Homo sapiens: one gene and its partners. The protein of the gene in region 1 purifies or fractionates together with the protein of each later gene. This does not show direct contact. Each region holds a gene or a part of one and is shown in the gene's direction. Other genes may lie near its edges.

What was found.
Region 2: the proteins of ARHGEF9 (region 1) and CPVL purify together in Homo sapiens (affinity purification with mass spectrometry; one large-scale study listed by BioGRID and IntAct). This does not show direct contact.
Region 3: the proteins of ARHGEF9 (region 1) and NSRP1 purify together in Homo sapiens (affinity purification with mass spectrometry, with the first as the bait; one large-scale study listed by BioGRID). This does not show direct contact.
Region 4: the proteins of ARHGEF9 (region 1) and JPT2 purify together in Homo sapiens (affinity purification with mass spectrometry, with the first as the bait; one large-scale study listed by BioGRID). This does not show direct contact.
Region 5: the proteins of ARHGEF9 (region 1) and TPX2 purify together in Homo sapiens (affinity purification with mass spectrometry, with the first as the bait; one large-scale study listed by BioGRID). This does not show direct contact.

The regions. Positions count from the first base shown.
Region 1 is NC_000023.11:63,649,205-63,652,722, reverse strand, and holds part of ARHGEF9 (rho guanine nucleotide exchange factor 9), read left to right. Parts: intron 1-3,518. UniProt on the Homo sapiens protein: Acts as a guanine nucleotide exchange factor (GEF) for CDC42. Promotes formation of GPHN clusters.
Region 2 is NC_000007.14:29,136,520-29,140,037, reverse strand, and holds part of CPVL (probable serine carboxypeptidase CPVL isoform b precursor), read left to right. Parts: intron 1-3,518. UniProt on the Homo sapiens protein: May be involved in the digestion of phagocytosed particles in the lysosome, participation in an inflammatory protease cascade, and trimming of peptides for antigen presentation.
Region 3 is NC_000017.11:30,119,816-30,123,333, forward strand, and holds part of NSRP1 (nuclear speckle splicing regulatory protein 1), read left to right. Parts: intron 1-3,518. UniProt on the Homo sapiens protein: RNA-binding protein that mediates pre-mRNA alternative splicing regulation.
Region 4 is NC_000016.10:1,695,268-1,698,785, forward strand, and holds part of JPT2 (jupiter microtubule associated homolog 2), read left to right. Parts: intron 1-2,544; coding exon 2,545-2,593; intron 2,594-3,518. UniProt on the Homo sapiens protein: Nicotinic acid adenine dinucleotide phosphate (NAADP) binding protein required for NAADP-evoked intracellular calcium release. Confers NAADP-sensitivity to the two pore channels (TPCs) complex.
Region 5 is NC_000020.11:31,737,796-31,742,097, forward strand, and holds the start of TPX2 (targeting protein for Xklp2), read left to right. Parts: upstream 1-1,494; 5' UTR 1,495-1,826; intron 1,827-4,302. UniProt on the Homo sapiens protein: Spindle assembly factor required for normal assembly of mitotic spindles. Required for normal assembly of microtubules during apoptosis. Required for chromatin and/or kinetochore dependent microtubule nucleation.

The DNA.
Region 1 (3,518 bases):
ATTATATCTGTAAAATACCTTCATGGCAACACCTACATTAGTGAGGACTACAGTCTAGTCGAATGGGCACATCAATAAATTCATCACACTTTTCTTATAAACAGCTGTATAACATTCCATAATATTATGTAATAACCACAGTCATCTCTTGGTATGCACGGGATATTGGTTCCAGGACTCCCGTGCATATCAAAATCCATGGATGCTCAAATCCCTTATATAAAATGATATAGTATTTACATATAACCTATGTACATCCTCCATATACTTTCAATCATTTCTAGATTATTTATAATACCTAACACAATGTAAATGCTATGTAAATAATTGTTATACTGTATTGTTTAGGGAATAAAAACAAGGCAAAAATCCATATGTGTTCAGTAAAGAAGCAACCAGCCGCTTTTTTCTGCATATTTTTGATCCACAGTTGATTGAATCCAGATGTGGAACCCATGGTTACAGAGGGCTGACTGTTCGTTTTTTGCTAGACATTCATTTTATATTTAGCTTTATTTCCCACTACAGATATTGCTGCAATAAATATCCATGTACGTATCTGATTGTTACTTACTGATGCTTTTATTCCTGTAGGATCTGTACCCTAAAGTGGAATGACTGAATGTTAGGATGTGAACAGTTTTAATACATACTTGCATATTAAATTCTGAAAGATTTGTAGAATCTATACTCCTAGCATAATTTTATGAGTACCCACTTCCGCATAGCCTCACCAGCACTGGATAGTATCTATTTGTTTCAGTTTGCCATTTCTCAACTAGTAAATTGAAAAAAAGTGTTGGAACCTTTTTTTTTTCATATGCTTAATGGCTATTTTCATTTCTTTTGTGAATTGCCTCATACCCTTTACTCATTCTTTTAACATAAATTTGGAAGGACTCTATATTGTTGATGTGACACTTTGTCAGTCACGAATTTCACGTTTTCACCAGTCTGTTTTTTGTCTTTTGAGTTTGTTTATATTGCCTACTTCTATAAATATTTAAATTTTTACTTTGAAAAATGTATCTATTATTCCTTTTTTGGCCCCTAGTTTCATCTTGCTTAAGATCTCTTGCCATCCAAACTATAAAATTTCCTGATTAAAAATATATTTTTGGTTTATTTTTAGAACAGTAATCCATCCGGAATTTACATTTTTATATGATGTGAGAAAGGGGACCTCATTTTTTTCTTCAAGGTGGATAGTCAGTTGCATCTGCATCATTTATTAAATAAATCATTTATTTTCCACACAGTTTAAATGCCATTTTTCATATATAGTAACTCTGCATATATACTTAGATGTGTTTTTAAACTTTCTATTCTGTTCCACTCTTCTGTTTGTCATTTCTTGTATCAAGACTATGCTGTTTCAATTACAGTAGATTTTGAGAAAGATTTAATGCCTGGTACAATCAATTCTTATTCACTCTTATCATTGCTTCTTAGCAGTTCTTAGATGTTTATTCTTTGATATGAATATCAAATTTATTTATTCTAGGTTTAAAAACACTGCCGTAAAAACTGGCATAGAAAGCCCATTTGGATTCTGATTGGCATTATATTAAATTTTTTAATATGTAACGGCTTGGCATTGTTATTAAGTTTTCACATTTAAGACAAGGCTCTGCTCTCCTTTCATCAAAATCTTGTTCTGTATGCTTCAGGAAAATGGTAGAGTTTTCTTTAGATTCTGTACATTTCTGCCTCTTTGTACATTACTTTTGATAATTTCTATTTTTCTGGGAAATTGTTCATTTCCTCTGGATTTTTAATTTAATGCTATATATCTACACATAATATTTTCTAATTATCATATCTTCCATAATTGTAGTTATCTCTCTTCTTTTGGGTTCATAATATTTCATATATTTTTATTTTCTCACTTTAATCTTTTAATCAGGCTTATCAGGGAGTATTGATCTTTTTTATGTATATATAATCATTATACATATTTTTAAGGTACATGTGATATTTTGATACCTGTATACAATGTGTAATGATCAAATCAGGGTAATTGCGATATTCATCACCTCAAATGCTCATCTTTTCTTTGTGTTGGGAACATTCCAAATATTTTTTTTAGCTATTTTGAGATATACAATAAATTATTATTAACTCTAATTTCCCTACTGTCCTATCACAAACTAAATCTTATTCCTTCTAACTGTGTTTTTGTACCTATTAACCAGCCCCTCTCCATTGACCTGAGCCTTTCTTTCTGAGCCACTGATAATCACCATTCTACTCTCTATCTTTATGAAATCCACCTTTCAGCTCCCATGTATGAGGGAAAATAATCTTATTTCACTTAACATAATATCCTCCAGTTCCATCCATGTTTCTGCAGATGACAGGATTTCATTTTTTTATGGCTGAATAATATAACATCGTGTATATATGCCACATTTCCTTTATACATTAATCCACTGATGGGCATTTAGGTTGATTTCATATTTTGGTTATTGTGAATAATGCTGTGATAAACATGAGAGCATAGATATTTCCTCGGTATATTGATATCCTTTCTTTTGGATACATACCCAGCAGTGGCATTGCTGGATTATATAGTAGTTCTATTTTTAATTTTTTTAGGAACTTTTCTACTGTTTTTCTATAATGGCTGTACTAATTTACATTTGGTCGTTTCAAAGAACGTGTTTTTGGTTTGTTTATCCCTTCTGCAGTTTATTTCTGTTTCTTCTTAATTTTCACTTTTATTTCCTTCTTTTTCCTACTTTCAGGATTTAAGGAATATTTTAGATCCTTTCCACTCTTTCATTGACTGAATACTTACTTTGTTTATTTTGATTTTTACAAAATCAGAAAATCATTTTAGACATGGGAGGGTGTATGTGTCGAGGAATTTGTCCATTTCTTCTAGATTTTCTAGTTTATTTGCGTAGAGGTGTTTATAGTATTCTCTGATGGTAGTTTGTATTTCTGTGGGATCAGTGGTGATATCCCCTTTATCATTTTTTATTGTGTCTATTTGATTCTTCTCTCTTTTCTTCTTTATTAGTCTTGCTAGTGGTCTATCAATTTTGTTGTTCTTTTCAAAAAACCAGCTCCTGGATTCATTGATTTTTTGAAGGGTTTTTTGTGTCTCTATTTCCTTCAGTTCTGCTCTGATCTTAGTTATTTCTTGCATTCTGCTACCTTTTGAATGTATTTGCTCTTGCTTCTCTAGTTCTTTTAATTGTGATGTTAGGGTGTCAATTTAAGATCTTTCCTGCTTTCTCTTGTGGGCATTTAGTGCTATAAATTTCCCTCTACACACTGCTTTGAATGTGTCCCAGAGATTCTGGTATGTTGTGTCTTTGTTCTCATTGGTTTCAAAGAACATCTTTATTTCTGCCTTCATTTCGTTATGTACCCAGTAGTCATTCAGGAGCAGGTTGTTCAGTTTCCATGTAGTTGAGCGGTTTTGAGTGAGTTTCTTAATCCTGAGTTCTAGTTTGATTTCACTGTGGTCTGAGAGACAGTTTGTTATAATTTCTGTTCTTTTACATTTG
Region 2 (3,518 bases), on another chromosome or scaffold:
GAAATGTAGAACGTGAAATAAAGATGAAGCCATTCTGAGTCATGTGCAGACCGTGGGAAATATCTCCCTGTATTTGACAAAAGGGGAAATGGCAGCCATAGCTAATTCTGAAGATGAAAAGTGTTCCTGCCTGGGTTACTTGATGAAGAATATTATTAGCAATCAGCAAGTCAAGTGGAAATAATTTGTTTTGTTTTGTTTTCTCCCCTTCTAACTATTGGCATGTTGGTAGAATTAACTTGGCTGGCAGGAGAATGAACCGCCTGTGCCGTTGGGACACAGGAGATTTCTGAGCTGGCAGACTGCACACTCCATGTAAAACCATGACTCTTTCCACCATTCTTGTGTACACGTGTGCCTGAACATTGGTGTCTGCAAAATCCGAGACGTCTGTTTCAGAGAAAAATTGCTGGAAGCCACTGATTTAGAATTTTAATAGGATTTTTAAAAAATCTGTGCTTAAAAAACATGTAATTTAATCAGTGTTGTAGCCCCCCTGCCCCCCCAAGAATAGCCTTTCTTAGGTTTCTTAGGTTGTCTTACGAACACTGACAGAAATGTGTAGGTTCAGGGCACCTAGAGCAGATGTGGAAGTTCTTTCATTAAGGTAGCCTGCGTGAATCATCCCTGTGACTCAAAGCCTGAAGCAGTTTTAGCCTGATCTCCTTGGCTGCATTTTTAGAATCTTAGACATTCCAAGCTGAAAGGGATTTTGGGAATTATATAGTCCATCTAATCTCCAGAATTTACAAATGAAGGAACTGAAGTCCAAGGGGAGAAGTGAATTGGCTTGCCCAAGGATATACCTGTTGGCAAAGTGAAGGCTGGAACTTTTGACCTTGTACATTCAGGAATTGTGGCAGAGCCTTTCCTGCTCGTCTTAGAATGTAATGTACTATAGGGAGCCCGCAGCCATCCTCTACGGTCTGGCTTTATTGTCTCTTTTCTCCCTATTTTTTAGTCTCCTTCTACCTTTTCTCAGCACACCTTTCAAGTGGGATGGAAGTTGAAACCCACTCAGCAGAGAATATGAGAAATACATGTGTAATGACACAAAGTTAGGTGTGTTAGCATTATGTCCAGCAAAGGAGGACACATACCCAAAGGTTGGGAGAAGTGGGAAGAGGCCTCTGAAATATTTGGCCTTGTGCTGAATGAGTCGAAGGAGGGATCAGGGAAGAGGTACCCGCTGGATTAGCTGCTGCCAAGTGCCCGTGGCAGCTCAGGAACTTAGACTCTCAGCAGTCTCTGTTCAGGAGATGGGAGGGACAAAGCGCTATCATTGGTAAGAATACAGCAGTTGCTCAGAAAAAAGGACTGTCCATCATACTGCAGCTGCAGAGTGGCCTTGGGTATATAGAAACATTGTTAATGTTCTGTTGGGAGCATCTTAGACTGATTAGCAGCAGAGCTGATTTTCACTCCCAGGGATCTGGGTCTCTCTCTTTCTCGGTTAATGGCACCACTGTCCACCCACCCAGCCATCTAAGTCACATCTGGGATCATCCTAGATTCTTTGTTCTATTTCAACTCTAATATATAATCACAAGTTTCTTCCAGTTTTACTTTCTTCTTCTTCTTCTTATTATTATTATTTGGAGACGTAGTCTCGCTCTTTTGCCCAGGCTGGAGTGCAGCAGCGTGGTCTTGGATCACTGCAACCTCTGCCTCCGGTGTTCAAGTGATCCTCCCACCTCAGCCTCCTGAATAGCTGGGATTACAGGCACATACCACCAAGCCTGGCTAATTTTTGTATTTTTTTGTAGAGACAGGGTTTTGTCATGTTGGCCAGGCTGGTCTGGAACTCCTGACCTCTGGTGATCTTACCCACCTTGGCCTCCCAAAGTGCTGGGATTACAGGCGTGAGCCACTGCTCCCAGTCAACCTTCTAATTATTTTTAAGTCTGCCCTCTCCACGCTATTATTACTAGTTTCCAGCCCTAGTTCAAACTCCTGTCATCTTTATTCTAGATTATTGTGAAACATATTAACTGGCCTTCCTGCCTGCTGTCTTTCTGGCTTAAGTCCATCCTTACATTGATGTTCATAGTACTCTTTTCAAATTATCAAGCCCTTCAGTAGTTCCTAGTCACTAGAGGATAAAGATTCTTAGCATATCTAGAAAACTCTCCCTGATCAGCTCTCTACTGACTTCTCTAGATTCCATCCTATTTCTCCACTTCCTACTTATGCTTTTCTCCTGCCTCTGTATTGGTTATCTATTGCTGCATAACAAATTTTTAAATGCTATAAATTCTATGACCTCCCAAAATAGTGATATAGGCGTTAAGAAGAAATTATTTGGGCAGATAGTGAGAGTACAGGAGTCCTCGGTAAGGTTTTCCTTTTAATGAAAAGCAGACCCCAAATCATTTTCTTTTCTAACAAAGAGCAGCCTGCCTATAAAATTGAGCTACACACATAGACAAGTAAGCTGGAAGCTTGCACAGGTGAATGCCGGCAGTTGTGCCAATAGGAAAAGGCTACCTGGGCTAGGCATGTTCAAAATGGCAGCTCCGTCTTCCCTTTTCCTTTCCAACCATGTGTACAGTAGGGAACAGACAGTAATGCTGGCCAAGTGGAAAGCCCATTTGCTTAATAAGGTTAGGGTGAGGTGGCCAGCTTCCCTGCATGCTATGTAAATGTCACACCTGGTCCAGCCAATCTGTGGGCCAATCTTTGTCTATATAAATCAGACACCACCTCCTCAAGCCTGTCTATAAAATCTGGTGCACTCCACGGAGGGCCAGATTTCCCATTCAGATGCCCCTCTCTTGCAAGAGAGAGAAGTGTTCTCCTTTCTCTTTCTTTTGCCTACTAAACCTCTGCTCCTAAACTCACTCCTTGTGCGTGTCCATGTCCTTAATCTTGGCATGAGATGGCGAACCCCAGGTATTTACCCCAGACAGTGATGCCACCTCAATAGGAGAGACAGCAGCACATGAGGGAAGTATAGAGGGATTCATTTAATTAGGAGTTAAAGTCAAGGTTGGAAACTAGTTTGGAGGTTTGCAGTAGTCCAGGCAAGTCACAATAAAGAACTGGATTAGGCCATGAGAGTAGATTTAGAGAGGTGAAGGTGAATTTGAAGAACATCTAGGAGATTCAGTTGGTGATTGATTGGCTGTGGGAATGCAGGGCCAGAGAAAAATGGATAAATAAAGAATACATCCTGGATTTCTGGCTTTAGTACTTGAGTTGATGGGAGTATTTCCAACCAAGATGAAAAATAGGGAAGTAAGGACAAGTTTAGGGAAGGAGATAATAAGTTTAGTTTTTGAGTTCTTCTTAACTACTTTTGATTTTTGTCAATATAATAAAAGTAATGTTATAATTCTCATGATAAAAAATTTTAGTCTTCTTCTCCCCACCTCCCCATCCTTCTCTTATCTCTGAGACCTCCTCTCATACTTTTACCTGTCTGTTCTAGCCTTTAATTCCAAATTTCCAAGTAATCTGCCTAATCTGTTTCTTGATTTATTGGTTTTAGGGTTACACCTTTTATTTGAGGTATTTTC
Region 3 (3,518 bases), on another chromosome or scaffold:
TATTATATAATAGCATGGGTGGATAATTTAACATATTTGATATTTCTTTGCTACTTTTGAAGACATTGGCTCTTTATGGCTCACAGTTTTTAAAAATTGAGGTATAATTTACATATAAAATGCTCAGATTTTAAGTGTACAGCTTGATGATTTTTGACAAATGTATATGCCCCAATCAAGATTTAGAACATTTCCCTCTCTCCCAAAAGGCTTTCCATACCCTCCTGCAGTCAGTCTACCTCCCCACTTGCTACCCCAGACAAATGCTCATATTTCTATCACTAGATTAGTTTTGCCTGTTACAGAATTTCATATAAAAAAAATCATACAGTATGTACTCTTTTATGTCTGACTTACTCCACTCAGTATAATGCCAGATTTATCCATGTAGTTGTAGAATCACATTTTTCTTAAAATGGATTTTTTCCCCCTTAACAGTGACTTAAGTTTTTCTTCCATTTTTCTGTTTTTATTTCTTCATAAAATATTAGAATAATTGACCATAAGAAATGAATCAAGGTTACTAGTTAAATCTCCATTTCTGCGTAGCCAACTAGAATATTTTCAAATGGAATATTGAGGAAGTTACTAATTACAACTTTTGAATTTTTAATTATGTCGTTGCATTAGTAGATATTTAATACCTACAATAGGTTAAGAGTTGATCAGTTTTGCATCTATATAGCCTATATACTTTTTATTATGTGGTACGCTTTAACAGTTTTTTTTGGGACCTTATATAGTGTTGCTTTCAACCAGTGTCTAGTCTAGTGGGGAAGACAGACATGTGAACATGAATATAAAGCAAACTGAAATATGAAAAGGAAACTAATATACTGAGGATTCCTGTGTGCTCATTATACTTTATTTGATCTTCAGGATCACTCTGATGTATTATTATTCCCATTTTACAGGTCAGAAAATTGAAGCTCAGGTTAAGTAATTTGTTCAAGGCCATGTGGCTGATAAATAAGTGTCAAGATTGGGATTTGAACACAGGCCTATCTGACCTTCAAACCTATACTATTCTTCTGTCTTGCCTTGTTTTAACAGTAGCGTTACAGAATGTGAATGAAATGTAGAGAATGAAATGATTCACTTTGTTGCAGGAAAATCAAGGCAGGAATAAGCATTTAAATAACATTCAAGGCTGGTTTAGATTTAAATAGGCAAAAATAGAGGTGAAATAATTTCATTTGGGAGAGAACAGCAAGAAATACAGAATGGCATACAAGTACAAGGCATTTTTGTGGAATAATGTGGCTGGAGAAGAGGGTATATAGGAAAAAATGTTGCAGATACGGTTGTAACAGGATTGGGCCAGATTGTGGAGTACCTTAAATTTTTCGTATAAAATTTCAACTTTATATTTTCAAGTAGTTTTTGAGTAATTCGGTGATATCATCACACTTTTGGGAAGATAACTCTTGAATTGTAAAACAAAGAAAGGGAGAAATGAGAGATGAGTTTAAAAATGCTTGTTAGAAGGCTTTTTTAGTAGTTCAGGTGAGAGATCTCAACCTAGGTTGAGGTCATTGGGAATTAATGGGGAAAAATGTGAGCGATACCACAGAAATAAGTAGGACCTGGCAGCCACATTGAATATATGGGAAAGAGATGGAGTCCTGATGCAAGATCTTTTTTTTTTTTTTTTGGTCATCATTTTCCCTCATTAAAAAAATATATAATTCACACACTGTATACTTTACCCTTTTAAAGTGTACAATTCACTGTGTGTGTGCGTGTGTGTGTGTGTTTTTTTTTTTTTTTGAGACGGAGTCTCTGTCACTCAGGCTGGAGTGCGGTGGCGTGATCTCGGCTCACTGCAACTGCAACCTCCACCTCCCGGGTTCAAGCAATTCTCCTGCCTCAGCCTCCTGAGTAGCTGGGATTACAGGCACCTGCCACCATACCCAGCTAATTTTTGTATTTTTAGTAGAGACGGAGTTTCACCATGTTGATCAGGCTGGTCTCGAACCCCTGACCTTGTGATCCACCTCGCCCGGCCTCCCAAAGTGCTGGGATTACAGGCGTGAGCCGCCGCGCCCGGCCAATTCACTGGTTTTTAAGAGTTGTGCCGGCATCACCACTGTTTAGAACATTTTCCTCACCCAGAAAGAAACTGTGTACCCATTACCATCACTCCCCATTCTCCCCACCCCTAAACCCTGGCAACCACTAATTTACTTTCTGTTTCTATGGGTTTCCCTATTCTGCACATTTCATATAAATAGAATCATGCAATAGGCTTTCTTTTGTGTCTGACTTCTTTCACTTAGCATGATGTTCTCAAGATTGTAACGTGTCAGTACTCTTTATTTCTTTTTTTATTACTGAATAATATTCCATTGTATGAATGTACCATATTTTATCTATCAGTGGTAGGCATTTGGGTTTTTCCCAATTTCTGGCAATAATGCTGCTATAAATACTTGTGTATAGGTTTTTTGTGTGGATATGTTTTCATTTCCATTGGATATTCTATTGGATATGTACCTAGGATGGAAATTTCTGGTTCATATGATAACTCTGGTTTCATATATATATATATATATATATATATATATATATTTTTTTTTTTTTTTTTTTTTTTTTTTTTTTTTTTTTTGAGACGGAGTTTTACTCTTCACCCAGGCTGGAGTGCAGTGGCGTGATCTCGGCTTATTGCAATCTCTGCCTCCCTGTTTCAAGCAATTCTCCCGCCTCAGCCTCCTGAGTAGCTGGGATTACAGGCGTGTGCCACCATGCCTGGCTAATTTTGTACTTTTAGTAGAGACAGGTTTTCACCATGGTGGCCAGCCTGTTCTTGAACTCCTGACCTCAGGTGATCTGCCTGCCTCGGCCTCCCAAAGTGCTGGGATTACAGGTGTGAGCCACCACACCTGGCCTGGTTTTATTTTTTGAGGAACTGCCAGACTTTTTCAAAATGGCTGCACCATTTTGCATTCCTGTCAGCAGTGTATGAGGGTTTTGACACTTCCACATCCTGTCTAACATTTCTTTTTTATTGTAGCCATATAGAAGGTGTACAGTGGTATCTCATTGTGGCTTTGATTTGCACTTCCCTGGTGGCCAATAATGTTGGACACTTTTTTGTTTTTGGAGAAATGTATATTCATGTCATTTACCTTTTTTTAAAAAAAATTTAAAATTGAGATGGGGTCTCACTATATTGGCCAGGTTGGTCTTGAACACCTGGCCTCAAGCAATCCTCCTGCCTCAGCTTCCCAAAGTGCTGGGACTACAGGTGCAAGCCACTGTTCCCAGCCACATTTATCTCTTTTTATTTTATTTTATTTTTTGAGACAGAGTCTCGCTCTGTAGCCCAGGCTGGAGTGCAGTGGCACGAACTTGGCTCACTACAACCTCCACCTCCTGGGTTCAACCAGTTTCCCTGCTTCAGCCTCCCGAGTAGCTAGGACTACAGGTGCAGCTGGGATTACAGGCATGTGCCACTACGCCCAGCTAATTTTTGTATTTTTAGTAGAGACGGGGTTTCACTATGTTGGCCAGGCTGG
Region 4 (3,518 bases), on another chromosome or scaffold:
GGTGGCACATGCTTGTAATCTCAGCTACTCGGGAGGCTGAGGCAGGAGAATCGCTTGAACCCAGGAGGTGGAGGTTGCAGTGAGCTGAGATCGTGCTATTGCACTCCAGCCTGGGCAACAAGAGCGAAACTCCGTCCCAAAAAAAAAAAAAAAAATCAGTTGCGTATGGTTGCGTGCACCTGTGGTCCTAGTTACCTGGGAGGCTGAGGTGGGAAGATTGCTTGAGCCCAGTTGTTCAAGGCTGCAGAGAGCAGTGATTTTGCCATTTGCACTCCAGCCTGGGTGACAGAATGAGATCCTGTCTCAAAAAAATTATAAAAAGCCTAGGCATAGTGGCTCATGCCTATAACCCCAGCACTTTGGGAGGCTGAAGCAGGCAGATTGCTTGAGCCTAGGATTTTGAGACCAGCCTGGGCAGCATGACAAAACCCCTTCTCCACAAAAATACAAAAAATTACCCGGGCATGGTGGTGCACACCTGTGGTCCCAGCTGTTCAGGAGGCTGAGTTGGGAGGATCACTTGAGCCCAGGAGGCAGAGGTTGCAGTGAGCTAAGATCATGCAACTGCACTCCAGCATGGGCAACAAGCAAGACTGTCTGAAAAAATAAGTAAATAAATAGGTCTTCATTAAAGTTATAAACTTCTGTGCATCAAAGGACACTATAAAGAATGAAAACAGGCCAGGCACAGTGGCTAACACCTGTAATCCCATCACTTTGGGAGGCCGAGGTGGGCAGATCACCTGAGGTCAAGAGTTCGAGACCAGCCTAGCCAACATGGTGAAACCCCATGTCTACTAAAAATACGAAAACTAGCCGGGCATGATGGTGGATGCCTGTAATCCCAGGTACTCGGAAGACTGAGGCAGAAGAATCAACTGAACCTGGGAGGCTGAGGTTGCAATGAGTTGAGACTGCGCCATTGCACTCCAACCTGAGTGACAGAATGAGACTCTGTCTCAAAAAAACAAAAAACAAACAAAAAAGCCTGGGCACAGTGGCTCACACCTGTAATCCCAGCAATTTGGGAGGCTGAGGCAGGCGGATCACGAGGTCAGATCAAGACCATCCTGGCTAACATGGTGAAACCCCGTCTCTACTAAAAATACAAAAAAAGTAGCTGGGCGCCTGTACTCCCAGCTACTCTGGAGGCTGAGGCAAGAGAATTGCTTGAACCCAGAAGGCAAAGGGCGCAGTGAGCCGAGATTGCGCCACTGCACTCCAGCCTGGGCAACAGAGTGAGACTCCGTGTCAAAAAAAAAAAAAAGTGAAAAGATAACTCGCAGAATGGGAGGAAATATTTGCAAATCATTTCTGATAAGGAGTTACTATCCAGAATACATAAAGAATGCCTACAACTCAACAACGAAATAACAAACCCAATTCAAAAATGGTAGTGGACTTGAATATACATTTCTCCAAAGAAGAGATACAAGCAGCCAAAAACCACCCGAAAAGATGGTCAGTGTTATTAATAACTGGGGACATGCACATCAGAAACCCGTGAGATGCCAGTGCATGCCTGTTCGGATGGTGTGATGTAAAAATGGAAAATACGAGTTGGTGAGGATGCAGAGAAACTGGAGCCCTCGTGCATTGCTAGTGGGATTGGAAGATGGTGCAGTGGCTGTGGATACTGCCAGTTCCTCAGAGTTAAACAGGATTACCATATGACCGAATAATTCCACTCTTAAGTACGTACTCACAAGATTTGAAAACAAGGAGTCAAACACTAGATCCTTGCACCAGGATTATTCACAGTAGCCCAAGGGCGGGAATGACTCATTTGTCCATCAACAGATGAATGGGTAAACAACATGTGGTCTGTCCATACAATGGAATATTACTCAGCCATAGAAAGGAATGGAGCATTGACACACGCTACAGCATGGATGAAATTATTATGGATGAAATATTACAGCATGGATGAAATATTATGCCAGTATTTAAAAATTTGACTTTGAGGCTGGGCACAGTGGCTCACGCCTATAATCCCAGCACTTTGGGAGGCTGAGGCACGCAGATCACTTGAGTCCAGGAGTTTGAGATGAGCTGGGCAACGTGGCAAAACCCTGTCTCTACAAAAAATAGAAAAATTAGCCAGGTGTGGTGGCTCACGCCTGTAGTCCCCACTACTCGGGAGGCTGAGATGTGAGGATCGCTTCAGCCCAGGAGGCAGAGGCTGCAGTGAGCCAAGATCATGCCACCGCACTCTAGCCTGAATGACTGAACAAGACTCTTGTCTCCAAAAAAAAAAAAAAAATTGACTTTGATATTTAAGGAATCATTAATATTCGCAGTTTTGAGGGTGCTACTGTTATTTTTTAAAGGATGTTTTAAGAGCTACATCTTGAAATATGTATGGATAAATGAAATATCAGGTTTGTTTCAGAATAGTCTGTAGAGGATTGGGGGGGTCCTGAGGTCAGATATACAAGCATTTTTGTAAATTAAAAGGTTATATGGTCCTGATTTTCATTGTCCATTTGAATGAGGGTAAAATTTTCTGAGTGAGTCCTGATTTGGTGGTTTGCCTTGTTGCAGGATCATGTTTTCTTATGTGAAGGAGAAGAACCAAAATCGGATCTTAAAGGTGAGCTTTTGTTTTCTTTCCCTTCTCCTGAGTGGCCTCATTATTTCTGGAAGAGTTGCTAGTCTCTCCTCTGGGAATGAAAAGGAGTCTTTCTTTGCACCTTCTGGGCCACCTGATTAAAACGAGCTCAGGTGTATCCACTGCAAGAGGATTCAGCATTTGAAGAAGGCTAGGGTGAAACCCTGGGACTTGGTTGTCTTGCTCATCAGCCTAGGCCCAGGGCCATGGGGTCGTCTCCTAGAAGCTCATCTGTGTAGTGATGGGCAGGGATCCCAAACCTTCAGTGAACTCATGACCAAGCATAGAGCTGGCAGAACTAATCGAGAAGAGAGGGGCACAAGAGAGGGATGGAGGATGGGGAGGCGGGTGTCTCCATGGTGAGTCACCCCGGGGGAGTGAGCCACTGCTCAGGTTGAGCGGCAGACTTCGACTCTCCCCACGGCTCTTTAGCCTGACCATGGGCATCGGTTTCTGCCTTTGGGTCTCCATTTCCCTTAACTAATGACCAAGATTTGTGGGATTTCATTCACCTTTGAAAAGCCCAGGGTAACAGCAACAGAGCCTGCCTTTGCCTTGCTAAGCCCTCACCTAGGATGCATTCCCTCGCCGCCTCATGGTCACTCTCAGGGGCTTGCTTTCTATACTTGAGATGGAAGAAATGGGAGTGGTGTCTAACAAGCAATATAAAGAAACAATTCACTTAGGAAGAAATCAAGGAGTATTTACAGTAGCAAGCCCCAACTTTATGCCCATTTCAAAACTGCATCTGCTAATTACAGTGAGTTGTTTTGGTACCAGATGAAAAGCCTGTCTATATTGTCTTCTCTTTCCCAGTTACAGCATGAATTTCTTGCAGGTTGCTCTATGACACACTTTTTATTTCCACAGCCTGCCTGTCAGGGTCATGGGTTGCCTCTAATGGGAT
Region 5 (4,302 bases), on another chromosome or scaffold:
TGAAGGAACTAAATTGTCCTGTGGTTTTCCTGTCTGGATTTTGCCGATTGCACCCCCATGGGTGTGAATTAACTGAACCATACTTTAAAAATTACTATAATTTCATGTTAATATGTACAAAATCTGTACATAAATCCCCCAATCTTTTTCAAAATTCAAGATGCCAGTACTTGTACTCTTCCATAGGAACTTTAGAATTAACTTGGCAAATTCCAGAACAGAACCCACTGGGACTTTCATTGGAATTGCCTTGACCTTTTTTTTTTTGTTTTGAGACAGAGTCTCGCTCTGTTGCCCAGGCTGGAGTGCAGTGGTGCAATCTTGGCTCACTGCAACCTCCGCCTCCTGGGTTCAAGTGATTCTCCTGCCTCAACCTCCCAAGTAGCTGTGATTACAGGCACGCGCGAGCACGCCCGGCTAATTTTTGTATTTTTAGTAGAGATGGGGGGGGGTTTCAACATTTTGGCCAGGCTGGTCTCGAACTCATCGCCTCAAGTGATCTGCCTGTCTCGGCCTCCCAAAGTGCTGGGATTACATGCGTGAGCTACCGCACCCAGCCTAGGCTTAATTTTTGAATCTTTAGCTTTTGCTGGTATTATGAAGGGGGTTGTTTTGTTGTTCTTGTTGCTGCTATTTTCTAATTGATTAAAAAAAATTAAGATGGTGGGGGTGGTCTCGTTATGATGTCTACGCTGTTCTGGAACTCTTGGTCTCAAGGGATCCTTCTGCTTTAGCCTCCTGTGGAGCTGGGATTATAGGTGAGCGCCACGAAGCCCGGCCTCTAATTAATTATCGGTGGTGTATAAAAAGAACAGACCTTCTTAATTCGAATCCCATCTTCTCCATTTATTATGTGATTTTGGACATGTTTGTTCAACTTCTCCTAGACTTTGTTTTCTTTTTACGACATGGGGATCATAAAGCCGGGATGCAGTTGGGAATAAAACCGGATAAAGCTCCCAACGAACCGCGGGTTTCATAAGATCAGGGCAGGGACTGGGTAAAAGGTTTCAAAGACTCCTGCACTATTGGGAAGGACGCTACGGGCGAGTCTATGTTGCATGCAGGCGACTCCATGTTAAGACGAAGTGAACTCCCTGAACCTTCAAGGGATAATGCACAACCATAACGAGAATAATTTTTAAAAATAGAGTTTTCTTCCCTGAAAACTTGGAGAGGTCCAGGATGCGCGCCATTCTGTGATCTAGGTTGACTCTCCACCTCTTCAGTTGGTACCACCTTTCCCAAATAGTTTGGAGCAGAGCACTCCGGTCTTTGTAATAACGTACTCCTAAGAGCTGTTCCAGTGGACTCACGCAGGCGCAGGAGACTACACTTCCCAGGAACTCCGGGCCGCGTTGTTCGCTGGTACCTCCTTCTGACTTCCGGTATTGCTGCGGTCTGTAGGGCCAATCGGGAGCCTGGAATTGCTTTCCCGGCGCTCTGATTGGTGCATTCGACTAGGCTGCCTGGGTTCAAAATTTCAACGATACTGAATGAGTCCCGCGGCGGGTTGGCTCGCGCTTCGTTGTCAGATCTGAGGCGAGGCTAGGTGAGCCGTGGGAAGAAAAGAGGGAGCAGCTAGGGCGCGGGTCTCCCTCCTCCCGGAGTTTGGAACGGCTGAAGTTCACCTTCCAGCCCCTAGCGCCGTTCGCGCCGCTAGGCCTGGCTTCTGAGGCGGTTGCGGTGCTCGGTCGCCGCCTAGGCGGGGCAGGGTGCGAGCAGGGGCTTCGGGCCACGCTTCTCTTGGCGACAGGATTTTGCTGTGAAGTCCGTCCGGGAAACGGAGGAAAAAAAGAGTTGCGGGAGGCTGTCGGCTAATAACGGTAACGATAATTATTGTTATTACCATGCTAACAGGTTATAAACATTGACTGAACTAAGCACCCTGCATGCCCGTTCTCATTTAATTTCCTCGCCAAGCCAATGTAGTTGGTGCTATTCTTGGTCCCTCTTGACAGAAACTGAGGAAGGAGGAAGGAGGAGGAAACTGAGGCCCAGAATCTAGATAAATTTCGAGAAATGGGTGATACAGTAGCCATGCCCTCAGGAAGTGTGGCGTTTGATGGAGGAAAACAGAGGTAGTCACAAATAAGTACATTTCAAAACTGTTGTCTAAAACAGGAAGATAATTAGATGGTGTGAGAACATAATTGAGGGAGAGTTTAAGTCCACTTGGAGTTGTCTTCTATTTGGGATTTAAAATTCATTATATGTTATCCATATTTGTCCAGCTCTCTTTTTGTATGGAATCACCAGATATTATTCCCTTTCTCATTTCCTTTCTCAACATTTATAGATTGGAGGGGGGAAGGAAAACCAAACCAGGTTATAATGTAGAATTGGTTTACCCCCTATTTTCTTGACATATAACGTCTGGTTTTCCACATATAATTTTCTAGTAGTTCAGTAACATGGACTCCCCCCAAATCAGGCCTACTTAGGATAGAAGAGGATTTTTGACTCCTGGATTTTGCTTTAAGACCAGCTCTTGGTTTACTTCCTGCTTCACCCTTACCTTTTCTTGACATCCTGTGGCCTCTCTTTGAATTTCTCTCACTCATCAAATGTTGTCAAAAATAGGACTACTTGCTGCTGTAGTAAGGATATTCTTGTATTGTGGCCTTAGTGTATTACATCACCCCCACGTCAGACTTGAGTCCCCCTGGTTGGTTTGGGTGAGTCAGTTCAGTATTAAGCTGGCATTCTTGGATCAAAATTATGTGGCTGTCAGCTAACTCAGCCATTTAGTTGACCTTTGAGGGTACTGTGCTCAGATTGGCATGAGATATTATGGGTGTACAGATATATGATGTACTCAAACGTTTTTTGGTATGTTTGGGGACAAAAACATGGTTTGAAATTGGCAAGTGAGAATCAGAGCAAGATAGGACACCATCTGGGTGCTCTACTGTTTTGTATTCTAGGTGTCTGGACAATTTAGAGGTGAGGGAGTTCAAGAGCCAGTTTGTGTTTCTGTGCTTCACAAAGCCACCCTTGTCTAATTCTTGATAACCAGAGTTTGGTTAGACAGGGACTGAAACAATCCTAGTGCATAGGAATCACCCACTAAATACCTGTTGAATTGAGTAGGCAGGAAGGCACTATCTGAATTGACTACAAAATTGCGGGTATGAAAAACTGGATTGTATTCAACTAGGTTGGTAAATTTGTTTAGACTTTCAAATTATCTGAATAGGGTTTATTTGGCCAACCTTATGCATAAATCTGTGTATTCCAACCTTGATAAAATTAATTTATTGCAATTAAGTTTGTCCAGGATTATGTGAGAGAGTCCTTCATTTCATTTCTTTAGTTACCAGGAGATGTTCAGGGCTCATCTACATCTCCTGGTTAATTTTCCTTCAGCTTTTTCTGTGTCTCTTCCCTAATTCTCTTTGAGTTCCTGGGAGAAAGAGGAGGGATATTTAAATGCCCTTTGACATACTTAATTTTCTTTGCTATGGGCAAAGTTAGGAAGCAAAATTGACTATAGAGTTGTTTTTTTTGTTTTTGTTTTTGTTTTTTTTTTTTGAGACGGAGTCTCACTCTGTCGCCCAGGCTGGAGTGCAGTGGCGCGATTTCAGCTCACTGCAACTTCTGCCTCCCCTGTTCAAGCAATTCTCCTACCTCAGTCTCTTGAGTAGCTGGGATTATAGGGATCTGCCACCACACCCGGCTAATTTTTGTATTTTTTTTTTGAGATGGCATCTCACTTTGTTACCTAGGCTGGAGTGCAATGGTGCGCTCTCGGCTCACTGCAACCTCCGCCTCCTGGGTTCAAGCAATTCTCCTGCCTCAGCCTCCCAAGTAGCTGGGACTACAGGCGCATGCCACCACACCCGGCTAGTTTTTTTGTATTTTTAATAGAGATGGGGTTTCACCATGTTAGCCAGGATGGTCTCAATCTCCTGACCTCGTAATCTGCCTGCCTCGGCCTCCCAAAGTGCTGGGATTACAGGTGTGAGCCACTGTGCCTGGCCTAATTTTTGTATTTTTAGTAGATACAGGGTTTCACCACGTTGGCCAGGCTAGTCTCAAACTCCTTATCTCAGGTGATCCACCTGCCTCGGCCTCCCAAAGTGCTGGGATTACAGGTGTGAGCCACCTTGCCTGGCCTTAGAGAGATTTCATAACCCAAGCGATTCTGTGAATAGATCTGTATTTGAGACAGAGATGTAGAGATCAGCAGCCCAAGGTACTCTGTGAAAAAAGGATAGATAACTGCGGAGGGCTTCCGTTTTTGTTTGTGTAGGGAAACTTGGTAAAAGGGGAATAAAGAACAGTGAGAAAAGTATAAAA